Regions from separate parts of the Homo sapiens genome. Here region 2 is linked to region 1. Evidence: fine-mapped expression QTL. A gene starts in region 1. The other region holds a variant in brackets. All regions are shown on one strand. Distances are between the middles of the regions.

Region 1 (8,332 bases):
CTTTTTTTTTTTTTTTTTTTTTGGTACGGTCTTGCTCCCTAACCCAGGCTGGCATGCAGTGGCACAATCAGAGCTCACTGCAACTTTGAACTCCAGGCTCAAGGGATCCTCCTGCCTCAGCCTCCCACGTAGCTGGAACTACAGGTTTGTGTGCCTCCATGCCCAGCTAACTGTTTTTGTATTTTTTTTCTTTGTAGAGACAGGATCTCGCTATGCTGCCCAGGATAGTCTCAAACTCCTGGGCTCAAGCAATTCTCCCACCTCAGCCTCCCAGAGTGCTAGGATTATAGGCATACAACACCACACCTGGCTTCAGCATTCTTTTGGTATTTACGTGGTATGTTATCATCTGGTCAACTACACTAAAAATCTTAGCATCATTATCTTTGTCCCTTATAAGCAGCTCAGAGCTCAAATTTATTGGTGTTTAAAAAAAAAAAAATCCAAATTGGCCAGGAGCGATGGCTTACGCCTGTAATTCCAGCACTTTGGGAGGCCAAGGCAGATGGATCACCTGAGGTCAGGAGTTCAACCAGCCTGACCAACATGATGAAACCCCATCTCTACTAAAAATACAAAAATAAACCAGGCGTGGTGGCATGCACCTGTAAGCTCAGCTACTTGGGAGGCTGAGGCAGAAGAGTTGCTTGAACCTGGGAGGTGGATGTTGCAGCCCGTGCCATTGTACTCCAGCCTGGTGCAACAAAAGGGAAACTCCATCTCAAAAAAAAAAAAAAAATCCAAACCAACAGTGTGTCTTTTAACTGACAAATTGAATACATTTAATGTTTATTGTGGTTACTGTTTTTCCCCCCTCCTTTCTTGCCTTCAAAGCCTCAATTTCTGTACTTGCTAAAATGGTGAAGATAAAGTGGACCTCACAATGGGAGTCTAAGAAACAAATGAGGTGTTAAAAGGAAAGCGACTGGGGCCTTGTAATAACAGTTACAGCTAACATTCCAGTGCTTTCTGTATGTGAGACAATATACTAAGCATTTTAAATTTAACTCATGCACAACCCTATAAGGCGTTTAACATAATCTCCATTTTACAGAGAGAAAACTGGGACAATGAGTGATTGTAAAATGTGCCTGTGATTGCACATTTAGTAAGTAGCAAAATTCAAATGTTAATTCTCTATCCTGCTATGTTCAAAGCATGAATACTAAAGTCATATTGTCATTTGTGCATATCTACATGCACAAACACACACAACATAAATCCTGGAGTCAGCTCCTATTCCCATGCACACATTCAGTCACTAATTCCCACAAAAATATAAATGAAGGACGCCCTGCCTCAACTGTATCACACTAACAAGCAGCACTTTCTTTTTCATGCCTTTTTGTGGTTCAAACTTCAGTGCCAACTCAGAAACACACAGCAGTTTCTCCCAGTTATACAAGAAATGACTCCTTTATACCTTAAATTGTGATAATACATAAATCTTAGAACAAAAGCTGGCACACAGTCATACGAAACATATACTAGCTATAATTATTATTATAAAAGTAATATATGATGGCAAAATATAAAAAACATACACAAGCTAAATAAGAACTATTATCTATGATCTCACCACAGGTAACCATTCTTAGGATGATGGAAACTATTGTGATATTTTTCATACAATGGAAGCATATGGTCATATTTAAAAGCTGTTTTTGTTTTTTTCCCATTATGTGAAGAACATCTTTCCAGGTCAATAACCTTATTTCTGTAAGATATAAACAACTCACATAAAATAACAAAAAAATAAAATCCGACTCATAATTGACAAAATACATAAAATATGTAGGAATATCAAGACCCATATGAAGCATACTAAAAACACCAATGAGAACTATAAAAATAGAATTAAAGAAATTTATAATTCGATTTTATTCTGGGATAGGAAGACTTCAGATTGTGAAGATAATTTGACCTCAAATGATTTATATAACTCATCGACTCCAATCAGAATCTCAAAATTCTAAAGTTTATGTGTAAGAAAAAAGGTTCAAGAACAATTCGGACACTTTTTTTTTTTTTTTGACAGGGTCTTACTGTGTTGTCCAGGCTGAAGTGCAATGGCATAACCATAGCTCACTGCAGCCCTGAACTCCTGGGCTCAAGTGATCCTCCTACCTCAACCTACAGAGTAGCTGGGGCTACAGGCATGCCCTACCACACCGGGCCTGGATGCTTTTGGAAATACAAAATAATGAGTGTGAACAGGCCCACTGTAATACATACAAATTATAATCATTATAACATTTGACACTGGCTCCAGAGAAGTTATACAGATGAAAAAAAGCAAACTGTCTAAATATGCAAGAGTCAGCATGCAATAAATGTAGCATTTCAAAGCCATCAGTAAAATTAAATTATTTAATGAATACAAGAATATTTGAAAGAAAATAAACGTAGCTATTTCATACAACTACTTTCAGTGGGTTAAATTTTAAAATAATGGAAACCCTAAGAATGTCTACAAAAAAAAACCACAGGTGAATGAATATATGTATAATTTGAGGGGAGATTTCGCTACACCATACCAAAAGCAAAAGTCACTTAAAAAATTTAAAACAGTCAATAAATATAACCATTAAAAAATACACGGCCAGGAATGGTGGCTCACACCTGTAACCCCAGCGCTTTAAAAGCCTCCTTCGATAGCGGCAGAGCCAGGCTGCTGGTGGATGCGGTCCAGCAGGGCAGCCGCTCCTTAGGGCCACGGCGCGGCAAGCGGGCTGGCCCGAGGTCGAGGCTAAACGCGCCCGAGGCTAAACGCGCCCGAGGCTGGCGCCTCCACGCCCGCCTGAAAGGACGCCCAGGAGCGGCGCCTCCGGAAAGGCCGTGCCCGCCCCACAGCCCAGAATCCGCGCAGCTCCGCGGCCCACGGCATCTTCACGACCCGGCCCAGCCCCAACCCGCCCCAGACCCGCATCCGCGCGCGGACGCCCAGGGCCTTGAAGCCGAAGCTCCCCGCGGCCACTCCCGCGCGCCTCCCCCGCCATTCCCGGAGCCCCCAGCGCCGGGCCCGCAATAAACTCACTGAACTCACAAAAGACGCCGCCGCCGAGTCGCGCCCGCGCGCCCGCGGCCTCGCGATCACGTGACACCGCCCGTCCCCCGTGTCCCGCGCACGCGCCCAAACCGTCGGCCTTTGTGCGCTCCCGGGCGGCTCCGAACGGGCCGGGACGAGTCGGGGACTGCACACGCGCACACTCGCACGCGCGCACACGCGTACACTCCCCTCTCACGTGGCAGCGAAGGACAAAGAGGAAGAACGGGCCACCTGCAAGCATTACCAAGAGTGCATGTGCGCATGCGCGAAGGAAGGAGCCCCGCGAACTCAACTTCCCACAGTGCCCCGCGTCCGGAAGTGCCTGTCGCTTGGAGACGGAGTGACTCCAAACGGGCTCACACGGTTTTCTGAGAAACATAAAGGGAAACCGAATCCACCAATATATATATATATTTTCTTGAGACGGCGTCTCGCTCTGTCACCCAGGCTGGAGTGCAGTGGCGTGATCTCGGCTCACTGCAAACTCCGCCTCCCGGGTTGACGCCATTCTTCTGCCTCAGCCTCCCGAGTAGCTGGGACTACAGGCGCCCGCCGCCACGCCCGGCTAATTTTTTTGTATTTTAGTAGAGACGGGGAGTCACCGTGTTGCCCAGGCTGGTCGCGAACTCCTGAGCTCAGGCAATCCGCCCGCCTTGGCCTCCCAAAGTGCTAGGATTACAGGCGTGAGCCACCGCGCCCGGCCCACCAATACTCAATTGGTTTGACTTCAGTTGAGGAAACCAGAAAAAATTTAAATATATTTATGGAAAGAAGGTAAGAATTAACAGAAAAAAGTAAAGTTGATCCATAACTGGAGTCGTAGGGAGAATTATAGGTAAGTCACGATGCTTATGACAGCAAGATGGGGCCGGGGAGATGGAGGAGAGAGATGAAAAAAGAGAAATAACCATAGACACATAGGAAATTGAATGAAAATCCGCTCTATACTAATAAATTTGATAATTTGTGACACAAATGATTCTCCAGGACAACATGGGCCAAATTTGACCCAATTTTATCCACAATTTGAAGACAAATTCAGAGATCCTTTGCCAGAAAGCATCATAATGAGTTGCTTAGTGAATTGCTTCAAACATCCAGTGATTAGAGAATTCTTATATTTATTCCCAGAGGTAGAACTCACCAGTGAAGTACTAGCATAAAAACAGACGCATGGACCAATGTGGAACAGCGTAGAAAAACCAGAAATAACCCCATGCATATACAGTCAACTAATCTTAGGCAAGTCAACTAATCTTGTGTCAAGAATACACGATGGGGAAAGGACAGTCGCTTCAATAAATAGCGTGAGGAAACCGGATATCCAAATACTGCTACGCAAAAGACCTCATTGCCCGATGTGCACAGAAGCCAATACTATGGCACCAGGCGTTTGAGAAAAGAAAAGCTTAATTGCGAGTTGACCAACAAAGTGACAGGAGTTTAGTTCAAATCTATCTCTCTGTGCTGCCCTTAAGGCAGCACTATTGTGAAAAAAGGTTTAGAGGGTGGATTCTGGGATTCACAGGTGAATGGTGAAGGAAAAAGGAAGTCTGGAAAGTCCCCGACCATGTGCAGTTGTCTCTTCAAGCCTCTTCTTGGGTCCCATGTGCAAATTAAGGTAGAGTTAGTGTGAAAAGTGCAGTGGAAATTCAGGCTGCGACATCAGCAAGCTCATTCTGCATGGACTCCGTTTGGTTATATTGGTTTCAACTGATTTCAGCCAGTTGTATTATATTACAAACGGAGTTTCAGCAAACTGTTTCTTATCTGCCATCCTGTAAGCTCAAGAATTTCTGTTAGCCGGACGCGGTGGCTCACGCCTATAATCCTAGCACTTTGGGAGGCCGAGGCGGGCAGATCACCTGAGGTCAGGAGTTCGAGACCAGCCTGGCCAACATGGTGAAACCCTGTCTCTACTAAAAATACAAAAATTAGCTGGGCGTGGTGGTGCACACCTGTAATCCCAGCTCCTCGGGAGGCTGAGGCAGGAGAATCGCTTGAACCTGGGAGGTGGAGATTGCAGCGAGCCGACATCGCGCCACTGCACTCCAGCCTGGGCGACAAGAGCGAGACTCCATCTCAAAAAAAAAAAATTCGTTAGTCACTGGTTTCTTTAACTATTTGGGGGCATGGTTTCACAACTTCTTCTTCTTCTTTTTTTTTTTTTTTGAGACAATCCCTCACCAGAATCTAGGCCTTTTCTAACCTGCTCCTCCAGACTCTTCCAAACTCTGCCCATTACCCAGTTCCAAAGCCACTTCCACATTTTCAGGATTTATTATTAGCAACAGCCCCACTCCTCAGTACCAATTTTCTGTCTTAGTTTATTTTCTATTGCTGTAACTGAATACCTGACACTGAATAATTTATAAAGAAAATGAATTTATTTCTTACAGTTCTGGAGACTGGGAAGTCCAAGGTTGAGGGACACTTCTGGTAAGGACTTCCTTGCTAGCAGGACTCTCTGCAGAGCCCCAGGTCAGTCCAGGGTGCACACTGTGAAGGGGGATCAAGCAGCCGAGCCCATTTCTCTCTTTCTCTTCCTATAAAGCCACTAATGCCCACCCTCATGAGCTCATCTAATCCTAGTTACCTCCCAAAGGTCCCACCTCTCAATTGCCATAGGCAGCTTTCCCACTCTCCTAACACTGTTACAATGGGGGTTAGTTGCAACGTAATTTTCAGAGGGCATAGACATTCAAATCATAGCAGTATATATCCAAAATAAATAAAATTAAAAGATATCTCAGCGATATCTGCACTCCCCTGTTCATTGCAGCATTATTCACAATAGTGAAGATGTAGAAACAACCTAAGCATCTATCAAAAGATAAAGAAAATGTAGTATACGTACACAATAGAATATTACTTGGCCTCAAAAAAGGAGAAAATTCTGTGATTTACTACAACATGGATGAGCCTGGAGGACATTATGCAAAGTGAAATACACATAGAAATACACGGATACAGAAAGAAGATACTACACGATCTCACGTAGATGTGGAATCTTAAAAAGTCGAACTCATAGAAACAGTGGAAGAGTGGTTACCAGAGGTCAGGTGGCAAGTAGGGGAAATGAGGAGATGTTGGTCAAATGTTTTAAAAAGAGAACAAACTTGCAGTTATAACATGAATAAATTCTGGAGACCTAATGGACAGCATGGTGACGACAGTTAATAATATGTTGTACGCTTGAAATTCACTTAGAGTAAGCCTGAAATACCCTAATCACACATACCTAAAGGGTAACTATGTGAGGTGATGGATACATTCACTGGCTTGATTGTGTCAGTCACTTCACAATGATATATATATATATATATATATATAAAGATCCCATTGTCATCTTGGATACAATTTTATCTCATTTTTTTCTTTTCTTAAACATTTTATTGATTTTATAGAGGGATTTCTTTTTTTGTTTGCATTTTTCCAGCTATTGGGAGAGTGGCTGAGTACTGAGTCTATCACTACTTGGATGATACAGGTAAGACTCCAGATTCACATTTCCAAGTACTAAGAGTTCCTCTAAAATGCCACAATCCAGCCGGTCTTCATTTACATTTCTGCTGAACACAGCAATGCCCACTGGTATCTCTGAAGTGTAATTGCACCTTAGGTCGGCATTTCTCCAAGTAAAGCAGCTGTTTGGAATTGAATGCTCCCCTTCTTTTTTGTCTTATAAACTGAACTGCATCTTCATACTTAATTCCATATTCAAAGCAAGCGCTGCCAGCACAGGTGCCCTTCCCAATCCCACAGCACAATGCACTGCAAGGCAGCAACCTGGCTTTTCACGCCCTTTAGTGATTAACAGGTTTAGCCAGTCATCTGCTATCTGATTAGGTGGTGGAGCTTCATCGTCAAAAGACCAATCTAAAATATGGATTCCTTCTTTTTCAACTGGAACTTTACCAAATGTAGCATCACAAACTCAAACCAAAGGTGTCACTCCACACGTCTCACATTCCTCTGTGAACTTGTTGCAGTGGCACTGGTAGACTTGTGGGTTATGAGAAAATGCATGTTCCTGTAAATCTCCACAGGGGCTGAACAGTCCATTATGGCAAAGAAAAAGTGTGAGCATGTGTGTGAGTGTAATGGGGAAAGTGAAAAAAAATCAATAAATCTTGAAATGTTTCACAGCAGAAAACTTTTTAATGTTTTATTTTTAGATCACTAAACTGCCTATTGATCAGTGTTTTTTCTATTTAACTTGTCTATTCCTTATGAAGCTTCTGTCTTCAAGATAAGCAGAATTGTTCAGAATCCACTGGAATCCAAATTCAACTTGGGCCTCAATTTCTGCAGATGGACACCTCTGGACTCCAAAAAATCCAAGGACATAAAAAACTTAAGCAGCCTTTATTACATTTAGTTCAACAAGTTTAAAGTGTAGGTCACTTTCCACTTTTGTTTACTTGATGCTTAATTTTACTGGAATCGTTAAAAGAAATATACTTGCAATTTTTTTAAAAAGGTATCTATTTCTGAGGCCAGTCTTGGTGTCTAGAGTTTTCAAGGTAGTATTAATGACAGCACGTAGAACCTCAAAGCTCATTTGTCGGTGAAAATGCTGTGCTAAGCCTGGCAGAAGTCTGCTCCCACACTCAGAATCACCATAAATGTGCAACATCACCAGAAAGTGCTGGTGTGCTGGGCACTGGGCATTGGAGTTGGGGATGGCTGCCCCAGCCTCTGTACACGACACCTGGCCTGGTGGATCCAGAGTTAGTCTTGCTGCCCAGCTGCCACTCCAGCCACTCCCTAGACACAATTTTAAATTGTCAGATATACCTTTAGTAAAGCTGAAAAAACAATTCCAGAGGAATTAAAAGGAGGAAAATTTTCTATTTATTAAATAGCATAAAGATACCAAAATTGATGAATGTATGATTTGAAAAGAAACCTCAAACTTAAGATTATGCAAGCATCAATATTGAGAAGTTATTAACAGAGAGAAGCTGGCAGTGCATTGCTAAAATATACTATAAGCAAATGGATTCTATTCTAGAAACACAAAGTTGATCAGAAAATCTACTAATATTACCATCGCAGTAAGTTAAGGGGAAAATAAAATCACTTCAATTACATGAAAAAATTAATTTTAAAATATATTTTAGATTTTATAAAAATAGCAAATTTGTTTGCTACCTTAACATGATAAAAAAAGAAAACCATAGGATTTTAACCGTAAAGCCAGTGTGCTTCTTAATGGTAGAATATTAGGAGGAGTTAGGAACAAGATATGGATACTGACTTACATCAGGATTTTTAAAA
Region 2 (8,332 bases), 190 kb before region 1:
GCCCTCAAATCGCACCATGTGGTTATAACCACTGCTCCACCTCCCCTTTGCTGTTGGCCAAAAGAGAGTCACTGGACTTCCCCTTGCCACATGTGCCTTACCTTTGAGGTACAGCTGGGAGCTGTGCTTATCTTGTGTTTTGGGGAGGGTTGAAGGTTTAAAGGAAGGGGCCCATTCAAGACTGATGTGAGTGCATCTGCCCAAGGTCTATGAGGTGACCTGGCAGGCCTAGGGTCACACCGCTGAGCCTGCTAGGAATGGAGCGGGGGCCATCTGACTCATGCCTGCATTGTGTGGCCACACTGGCACTTTGTAAAATCAGTGAATTTGAACCCAGAACCCTGCTCTTCCCATCACTGCCTTCCCCAAGGCTGAGTCGGTTTGGGATGGCAGATGCAGGTCCCAACAGTGCTCCAGGGTGGGCAGGTGGCCAGGGCTCAGTACACTCTTCTTGGCAGGGGTGCCAGGTGCCGGGAGGCAGCCAGGAGTTAGTGCAGCTCTGGAACGACATCCACTACCGTCTGGTCATGAGGAGGCTGGGCGTGGCTGCGCTCACCCCGGTGCAGAAGTTCCGCTGCAGGAAGAGGTAACCTACAAGCATTTACTTGTGCATATTTCATGGGGATCCCAAGGGATTAGATGTACCATGCAAAGCCCAGAGGGGCTGAAGCAAAGTGGAGGTGAGGAGATAGGGACAGGAAATGTCCGCCGGAGCAGTAATAGTCACAGTGTAGTCAGCATAAGATGACTTCAGTGTGTGTCACACCTGTGCTGGATGCTGGTCACTGAGCTACACTCTCCACCAGCCACTTCAGTCAGCTGATGGCTGGAAACGGATGGCTGACCACAGGGTGACTGAGGCTAAGGCCAGGAGGTGGGCATCCTCATCATCTCTGCCCAGCATCCACCCAGGGACTGGCCAGAAAGGGGGCTATTGGGCCAGGGACAGTGGAGATGGAGGGCAGGTGGGAACAGCTCAACATGTGTCCCCAGGTCATCTAATCCCCACAATCTGGGCTCTGGGTGGCCACTGAGGGGTTGCAAGGCCTTTCAAAGAGTTAAGGGTGAGAATGTTGCCAGTGTTAGCATGAGTTACATGTCAGGCGCTCAGAATAGTGCCAGGCACATGATAGGCACTAAATAAGTGGTAGTCCTTATCATCGCCACCATTATCAGCACTAAATAAATGTTACTAGTAATTTTTATTATCACCATCATCACCACTTATGGATGAGGAAACGGAGGCACAGAAAGGGTAACCTGAGGTTCCACACGAGAGAGAGTTGCAAAGCCAGGACGCTAGCCCAGACACTGAGAAATTGGAGCCTTTAAAAAAAAAATTGAGACAGGGTCTTGCTCTGTTGCCCAGACTAGCATGCAGTGGGGCGGTCACAACTCTGCAGCCTCAACTTCCCGGGCTCAAGCGATCCTCCCACCTCAGCCCCCCAGGTAGCTGTGACCACCATGCCCAGCTAATTTTTAATTTTTTGTAGAGACAGGGTCTTGCTATATTTCCCAGGCTGGTCTCAAACTCCGGGGAGCCTTATTCTTCATCTCAGGTGCTCTCCACTGGTCAGGAAAGGGCTGTAGATCTTGCTGTGAACTCCTGACAGCCCAAGTCATGAAAGATTCCTGAGCCACAGGGCCTGGTCGGTAAGAATACTGGTCGCTGAAGGAAGAAGACATGGATACCTTTTGGGCTCAGAGAATTTTCTTGCGTGGTACCCATCAAATAGAGTGACAGAGTAAGACAAGTCGTCAGAAGCCCAGCAGTAAATCAGCTGTGGGGTCTTCAGGGGATGTGATTGTAGCCCCCCACGGGCATGCTGACACCTGCCAGAGTGCAGTGGTGTCATCTTGTCGACATGTTTGTTAAGCACCCCCTGCCTGCTGGGTTCTGGGAGGTGCTGGGGATGAAGGCCAGGCTCTGCCTCCATGGAACTGACATTGGGATGTGGACAATAGTCAACAGACAAGAAAATAAAGTAGGTCACATAATTCAGAGAGTGAGAAGTGCTATGCAGAGAATATGTCCAGAAGAGGGCTGTGCAAGGTTGGCTGCTTTAGATGGGGTGGTCAGTGCAGGCTGGTCCTAGTCTTGGAGGAGAGTCTTGAGTATGGTGATGTGTCAGCCATGTGAGCAGAAGTTTCTGGGAAGGGGCAGCACATTCAAAGACTTGGGATCAGAGAAGCTTGGTGTTCAGGGGCAGATGGGAAGTATTTTGGGGTGTATGTGTTCACAGCCCTTGAAAAATGTAAAAGCAGGTGTTGGAATGGATTCGCTCACCCTGCCTTAGAGGCTGATGAGCAGCAGGAGGACATTGAGCCGGCAGCCATGGTAGCTGCTGGATTGGGTTATGACCATGCTGATGGTTCCCGGGTGGTGTCAGGAAGGGATGGCATCTGAGTCACAGAAGATGCAGATACAGGGATCAGGAGTAGATGCTGGAGTTTCTAGGAGGTTCCAGGCATGCCCAGGGCTGGGATCGTGGCTGGGGAAAGTGGAGAGTGTTGTGTCAGTACCCTGACACAGGAGGTGGAGCTGGGGGGTTTGCTGATGGGCTGTACACATGGCAGGAGGTAAAGAGAGGGCTAAAGTAGACTCCAGGGCTCTTGGCCTATGTGGGAACCACCAGGAGCATGAGGGTTCCTTCACTGAGATGCACAGGAGCTGGGGAAAAGTCTGGAGAGGGGGGATGGAGTTCTTTTGGGATTCATGATGTGCGAGATGCATTTTAGATGTCCAAGTAGGCACTGGGATGACACACCTTCTACAGACAAGTAATATTGGTGCATATATCATCTTTTCCTTATGAAATATTCAAATCTGCTCAGCACTAGAGAGGAGCATAACCAGCTGGAACACCCCCAGTGTCCAACTCCAGCATTGCTCAGACACGCATCCCTTTGTCATCTCTGTGACTGATACTGAAATCCTGGGAGCGCACAGAGAAAGGGGTCCTCTGTGTTCAGGGGACAGACCTCTGGGACTTTGCAGCCCAGAGGAGGATGAGGAAGATTCAGCTGAGACATGGCCAGTGAGAGGAAGAGGAAATCCAGCAGTGCAGAGTTCAGAAGCCAGTGAGGCTGAGGAGGTGCCAGTTAAGAGGAGAGCTGAGAAATGAACTTCGGATTGTGTGAGCTGGGCAAGTGCTTTTAGTGGCAAGGTGCAAGGATCCAGGTGTGTCACAGAGACAAGGAGACAGTGGCAGTGATCCAAGATCATTCTTTGAGAAGTTTAGCTGGAACTGGAGCAGACTCATGGGATCACCACTGGAGGTGAGAAATTTACAGAGCTTAGCAGCTCATGAGAATGACTTACTAGAAGAAATGCTGGTGATGGCAAGCAGGGAATTAGTTCAGGGGAGTGTTCTTAGTGAGATGGGGGATGAGCAGGTGCCACGGCTGGAGCCTCCCCTCACCAGGGGCCCCACAGGCATTTGGGGAGTGCAGAAGGGCTGGCAGGTTTGCTGGGGGCACAGGTGGTGCTTCTCTTCTGAGAACATCTTGGTGAAATGAGAGCCAGATCACCCAAGGACATTAAGTCTTGGGAGGAGGTCTTGGGGGTGAGAGACGAAGGGAGAAAGCTGGCGTGGCCATGCAGGGTGGCAGGGGTGTGAGTGCTGCAAGCCTCAGAGGACTCATGCAAGAATGGGGCTGATGCCTGGAAACCAGCGATGAACAGAAAGCACTGAATGGAAAAGCACCCAGGGTGGCAGCCAGGTCCTGAGGACAACAGTGTGTGTGTGTGTCCAGGAGGGCCATCCACGGGAGCTCCATGGGCTGAGGACACCTGTGTGTGAGTACGAGGAAGGCTGTGCACGCGGCCTCCATGGATGAGGATGTCTAC[A/G]TGTGAGGATGTCCAGGAGGGCCATCCATCGGGGCTCCATGGGCTGAGATGCACCCAGGAGCACTGCAAGGGCCCACAGAGGGCTCCTCACAGTGGCCTGTAGATGTTCTGGAACAGTATTTGTCAGGGTTTGTGCATGTCTGTGGAAGAGACTCTAGTTTTCACTAACTGGAGGCAGAGAGAGGCATCCCCCAGGAGGAGGCACAGGGAAGGAAGTGTCACCTTCTGCAGAGGGCCAGGCCTGGAGAAGGGAACAGATTTGGAGGGGTCCTGTCTGTTACCACCTCCTCACTGTCCTTACCCAGGAACCCCCCGCCCCCCTCCCTCTGCCCAGAGGGGCTGAAGAGCCGGAACTTCCCCAGAGAGGTTCGTGAGAAGCTGCACAATTTCGCTGTGGGGGTGAACACCAACCCCAGCAAGGCTGAGAGGGTAAGAATAGAAGATACCCAGGACCCAGGGGGTCCCTGCCTGGTGCCTCCCTGTCCCCCAAGGGGTACCCCCACCCCAGGCTCCTCAGTGGCCTCATCCGCCAGGGTGCTGGTGGTTTCAGCCCCTCCTCTGGACAGGGACCTTGTTGATTGGCAGACTGTCCTGTCTGCCACATAAAGGGTTTCATTTTCTCACGTGGAGTCATAACATCTGTGTATGTGGCCCCACGGCTGCTCACTCAGCACCCACTGTGTGCCAGGCACCAGGACGATGGGTCGAGGCATCTGCCAGCTGACATGCTCTCCACTGCACAGTGGGTTTGTGCCAGGCACAGGCAGTGTGGTTCTGCAGGCCCTGCCCCTCCAGGGGCTTGGGGTGGCCCTGGGCATGTTGTCTGGGTGGACCTAGCAAGGGCCCCACTCAGGGGGACGTGCACATGTGGCTGTGCAGACAGCCTGACCTGGGCCTCACTGCTCAGGGGATGGGGATCAGCCCAGGGAGGTGAGGCCTGCATGTTCTGCTCATGCTCACCGCTCTCTGCTGTCCTTGGAGAGGTTAGGCTGGGCTGTCACCCCCTTTCTTGGTGTAAATGAGCTGTCTGAGCCACTTCTGCACACCCCCTGTCCTCAGGGAATGGAAGCAGGGCTAGAAGTCTTGTTGTTTGGGGGCAGGAGAACTTGGCATTGGAGACGAGCTTGACCCCTGAGCAGGTGTACAACTGGTTTGCCAATTACCGGCGCCGCCAAAGAGCCCTTCCCCAGCACATGAAGCCAGCCCAGCAGGCCACAGCTGAAGACCCTGGTGCGAGGGAGAGGGGTCCTGACCTCCTGCAGCCCTCAGGCAACCCCCGTGTTGACTCTGGGTTTGTGGACAGGCCTCAGTGGTCAGGTGAGTGGCCTGAGGGCCCCAGTCTCCTTGTGGTCGGGGAGCTGGTTTCTGACAAGGGCCAGGCCTAGGTAGTCACACTGCTTACAGGGGTAGCCCTCCTCCAATCAGTAGGTTCCAGGTGTCACTCTGTGGGAGCAAGATCACAGGGTCCGAGGTCTGAGGCTCAAGATGCCCAGGCTGGGCTGTGGCTGCCCCTATGCATTTTGAGGTCACTGTGTGGCCGGGCCAGGAGCTGGGCTGGAGAGGAGGGCATCGTGTGGCCAGAGGAGGAGTTGGTGAGTCAATTTGAGAAGTGAACCAAGCACCGGGATTTGGGGTGTCCTGGGTTGGCAATTATGGATTGTTGGTTCACACCAAAGACAGGACAAGAAGCAAAAACATTGGGATGGCCCCATGGCAACAGCCTTTTCCAGCCAGCAGGGCTGCTCATACCTGATGGGAAGGAGGTTGGGAACCAGAGCCTCACTAAGTCTCCCCTCCCATCTCATCACTTTCAGAGGAACGTGAGGAAAAGGGGCCTCCACAGTCCCCACAGACCACCCAAGGACCATGGGAGCCACTGGCCTTAGCCCCGGACTTTCCCGCAGATGAGACAGTCTCAAAGCCACTGGATGTCAGGTACTGTCATCTCCATGGCCATGGAATCATCTCACCTATTCAGTTCCCTTTCCTCCTCAGGTGGAGACTAGGGCATGAAGTAGGCCTAAGGGTGACAGGACCCCCACACTGGGATCAGGTCAGACCCCAGGGAGAGGGAAGCCACCAGCAAGGAGCCCACGTCAGGGACTGGGGTGGGGGTGGCTTCTTCTGAACCCACACGTGCTCCTGCAGCCTGACTCATCACCTGAGTTCATGTCTGTCTTGGAGAACGGGGTAACAGACTTAGAAGGAAACACATGCAGCCCTGCCACCTAAAGACAAACCCAGCTGTCCCTGTGGTTTGTTTCTAGTACTTTGTCTGTTTTGCTTTTCATTGAGTTAATACCAGCCAGTATCTCTTGAGTTCCTACTGCACACCAGCACTGTTTGAGCACCGTTGTGCTCCCTCCTGCCCTGCCCTGAGGGAGGCTCTGCCCACCAAGAGACAGTGTTCTCCATGTCCCCCAGGTCTCTGCCAGGTGGCGAGATGTACCAGGAGGGGCCTGGCCATGATCCTGCCACCCTCCCCCTCTTCTGCCCTGGCCCTGGCCTCTGCCCTCTGGCTGCTGGCAATGACATGCTGAACCCCTCTCTGGCTGCCCCTGAATCTTGGCTGATGTCTCTTGCACTGGCGTCCTCCAAGGAAGTTTCCTTCCAGACTGGGCAGCTGGTCCACAGCCATGGGCTGGACTTCATGATGGGCCCTGCAGACACCGCTGTGGCTGTGTCCATTGCCACCCTTGGAGATCCCAGCCCTACAGGTGGGTCCACTTCAGACAGACCATGAGTTTCAGCACCAGACACTGTGACTACTCAGGTCCTGTTTGAGGGGATAGAAGTGTGGGTAGGGCCACACGGCTTGAACCCATGGTATTTGATTAGACCTGGAACCAATGTAGCCAGAACAAAGACTCTTCCCACAAACATCCCAGATTATTTCTCATCTGTTTTATTGTGTGTGTGTGTGTGTGTGTGTGTGTGTATGTATGCATATCACTGAAGAGGAAGAGTTGAAAGGAAAGAGCTGCCACCCTGTGCTCTCCACTGCAGTCCACTTGATTTATCTATTAACACCGGGTGCAGCAGAGAAGGCTGAGCTCCTTAGACTCCCCGCTTGTCCACCCCCCTTAGCCTGTAGTAGAGATCCCATGATTTTAGCTTCTAAGTTATCGTTGAAGCTGTAAAATCATTTAAAGAGTATGTATTTAGATGTATATTTTGCCCATCCAGTACACCAGAATCATGAGACTTCTCACTTTGTAAGGAGGAAACTGGAGCTATGAATTCACCCAAATTTCTTTCTTTCTTTTTTGTTTTTGTTTTTTTTTTTTTTTGAGACGGAGTCTTGCTCACCCAGGCTGGAGTGCAGTGGCGTGATCTCGGCTCACTGCAACCTCCTCCTCCCAGGTTCACGCCATTCTCCTGCCTCAGCCTCCCGAGTAGCTGGGACTACAGGCGCCCGCCACCACGCCTGGCTAATTTTTTTGTACTTTTTAGTAGAGACGGGGTTTCACCCTGTTAGCCAGGATGGTCTTGATCTCCTGACCTCATGATCCGCCCGCCTCGGCCTCCCAAAGTGCTGGGATTACAGGCGTGAGCCACCACGCCCAGCATTTTTTTTTTTTTTTTTTTTTGAGATGGAGTCTTGGTCTGTCACCCAGCCTAGAGTGCAGTGTCACGATCTCGGCTCACTGCAACCTCTGCCTCCAAGGTTCAAGCGATTCTCCTGCCTCAGCCTCCCGAGTAGGTAGAACTACAGGCACCTGCCACCACGCCCGGCTAATTTTTTGTATTTTCAGTAGAGACAGCATTTCACCATGTTAGCCAGGCTGGTCTCAAACTCCTGAACTCAAGGGATCCACCCGCCTCAGCCTCCCAAAATGCTGGGATTACAGGCGTGAGCCACCATGCCCAGCCAAATTTACCTATATTTAATATTCTATGGGTATATACATCTTTTCTCTTCAGCTTTTTTTTCTTCTTGGAGCTTCTCCATGCCTTTCCTTTTTCTTTTTACATTGTCTGCTTTTATCACATTTTTAACATCTTCCAGCATTTGAAGCATCCCATCTGAAAACTCACTGTTGGGGGCCCTCCATTTTCCCTTTCCCCTCCAAGTGACAGCTCCCTAGGCCTGGAGTGAAGCTATTGTCCCCAGTGCTCCCATGCTGCTTCCCTGGGTTTACTCCAGGGTGTCCTGAATTTCAGGTCTGGTTCTTTCTTTATTTGACTCCCTTGTTTTGTTAGCCAGCAGCTTCAGTTAACTTTGCAAGAAAGAGTGCCTGCAAGATAAATTATCCGAGTCCTCATTTGTTCTAAAAATGTCTTTAATCTGTCTTCAAGTTTGGTTAACAATTTTGCAAGGACAGAATTCTGAGTTGAAATGCTTTTCCCCCCCTCATAATTTTTTGGAGCTCTTAGATTCTTTTTTTCTTATTTTTTGGGGGGGTGGGTCTTAAAGTTCTGAAATTTCACGCTGAGGGTCCGAGGTTGTGGGTCTTTTTACTTCATCTTGCTGTTAAGACT

Direction of the effects. Positions count from the first base shown, and alleles are read on the strand shown. Sizes are in standard deviations (SD) of each study's normalised expression.
With allele A in place of G in region 2, the expression in whole blood of the gene that starts at base 3,083 in region 1 is higher (small effect, 0.40 SD a copy in Lepik 2017).

What was found. PIP is the estimated chance that this variant, and not a neighbour inherited with it, causes the effect. A credible set is the group of variants that fine-mapping cannot tell apart.
Region 2: its variant is the best candidate, but not a certain one, in a credible set for the expression of ZNF84 in whole blood (Lepik 2017, PIP 0.74).

Annotation. Positions count from the first base shown.
Region 1 is chr12:133,032,260-133,040,591 of GRCh38, reverse strand. It overlaps ZNF84 (zinc finger protein 84), which reads right to left and starts at 3,083. Exons shown (of 5, transcript NM_001289971.2): 1 at 3,047-3,083. It overlaps ZNF84-DT (ZNF84 divergent transcript), which reads left to right and starts at 3,370. Exons shown (of 3, transcript NR_110091.1): 1 at 3,370-3,823; 2 at 6,489-6,539; 3 at 7,288-7,933. It also overlaps the pseudogene PTP4A1P2. RefSeq lists a silencer at 2,977-3,156 and an enhancer at 3,377-3,466.
Region 2 is chr12:133,223,771-133,232,102 of GRCh38, reverse strand. It overlaps ANHX (anomalous homeobox), which reads left to right. Exons shown (of 10, transcript NM_001372060.1): 3 at 459-586; 4 at 4,156-4,279; 5 at 4,951-5,167; 6 at 5,665-5,785; 7 at 6,275-6,567. Among named protein-coding and RNA genes, the nearest start is that of ANHX, 7.9 kb to the left of the region's middle. The variant A/G (reference allele first, on the strand shown) is at 3,851.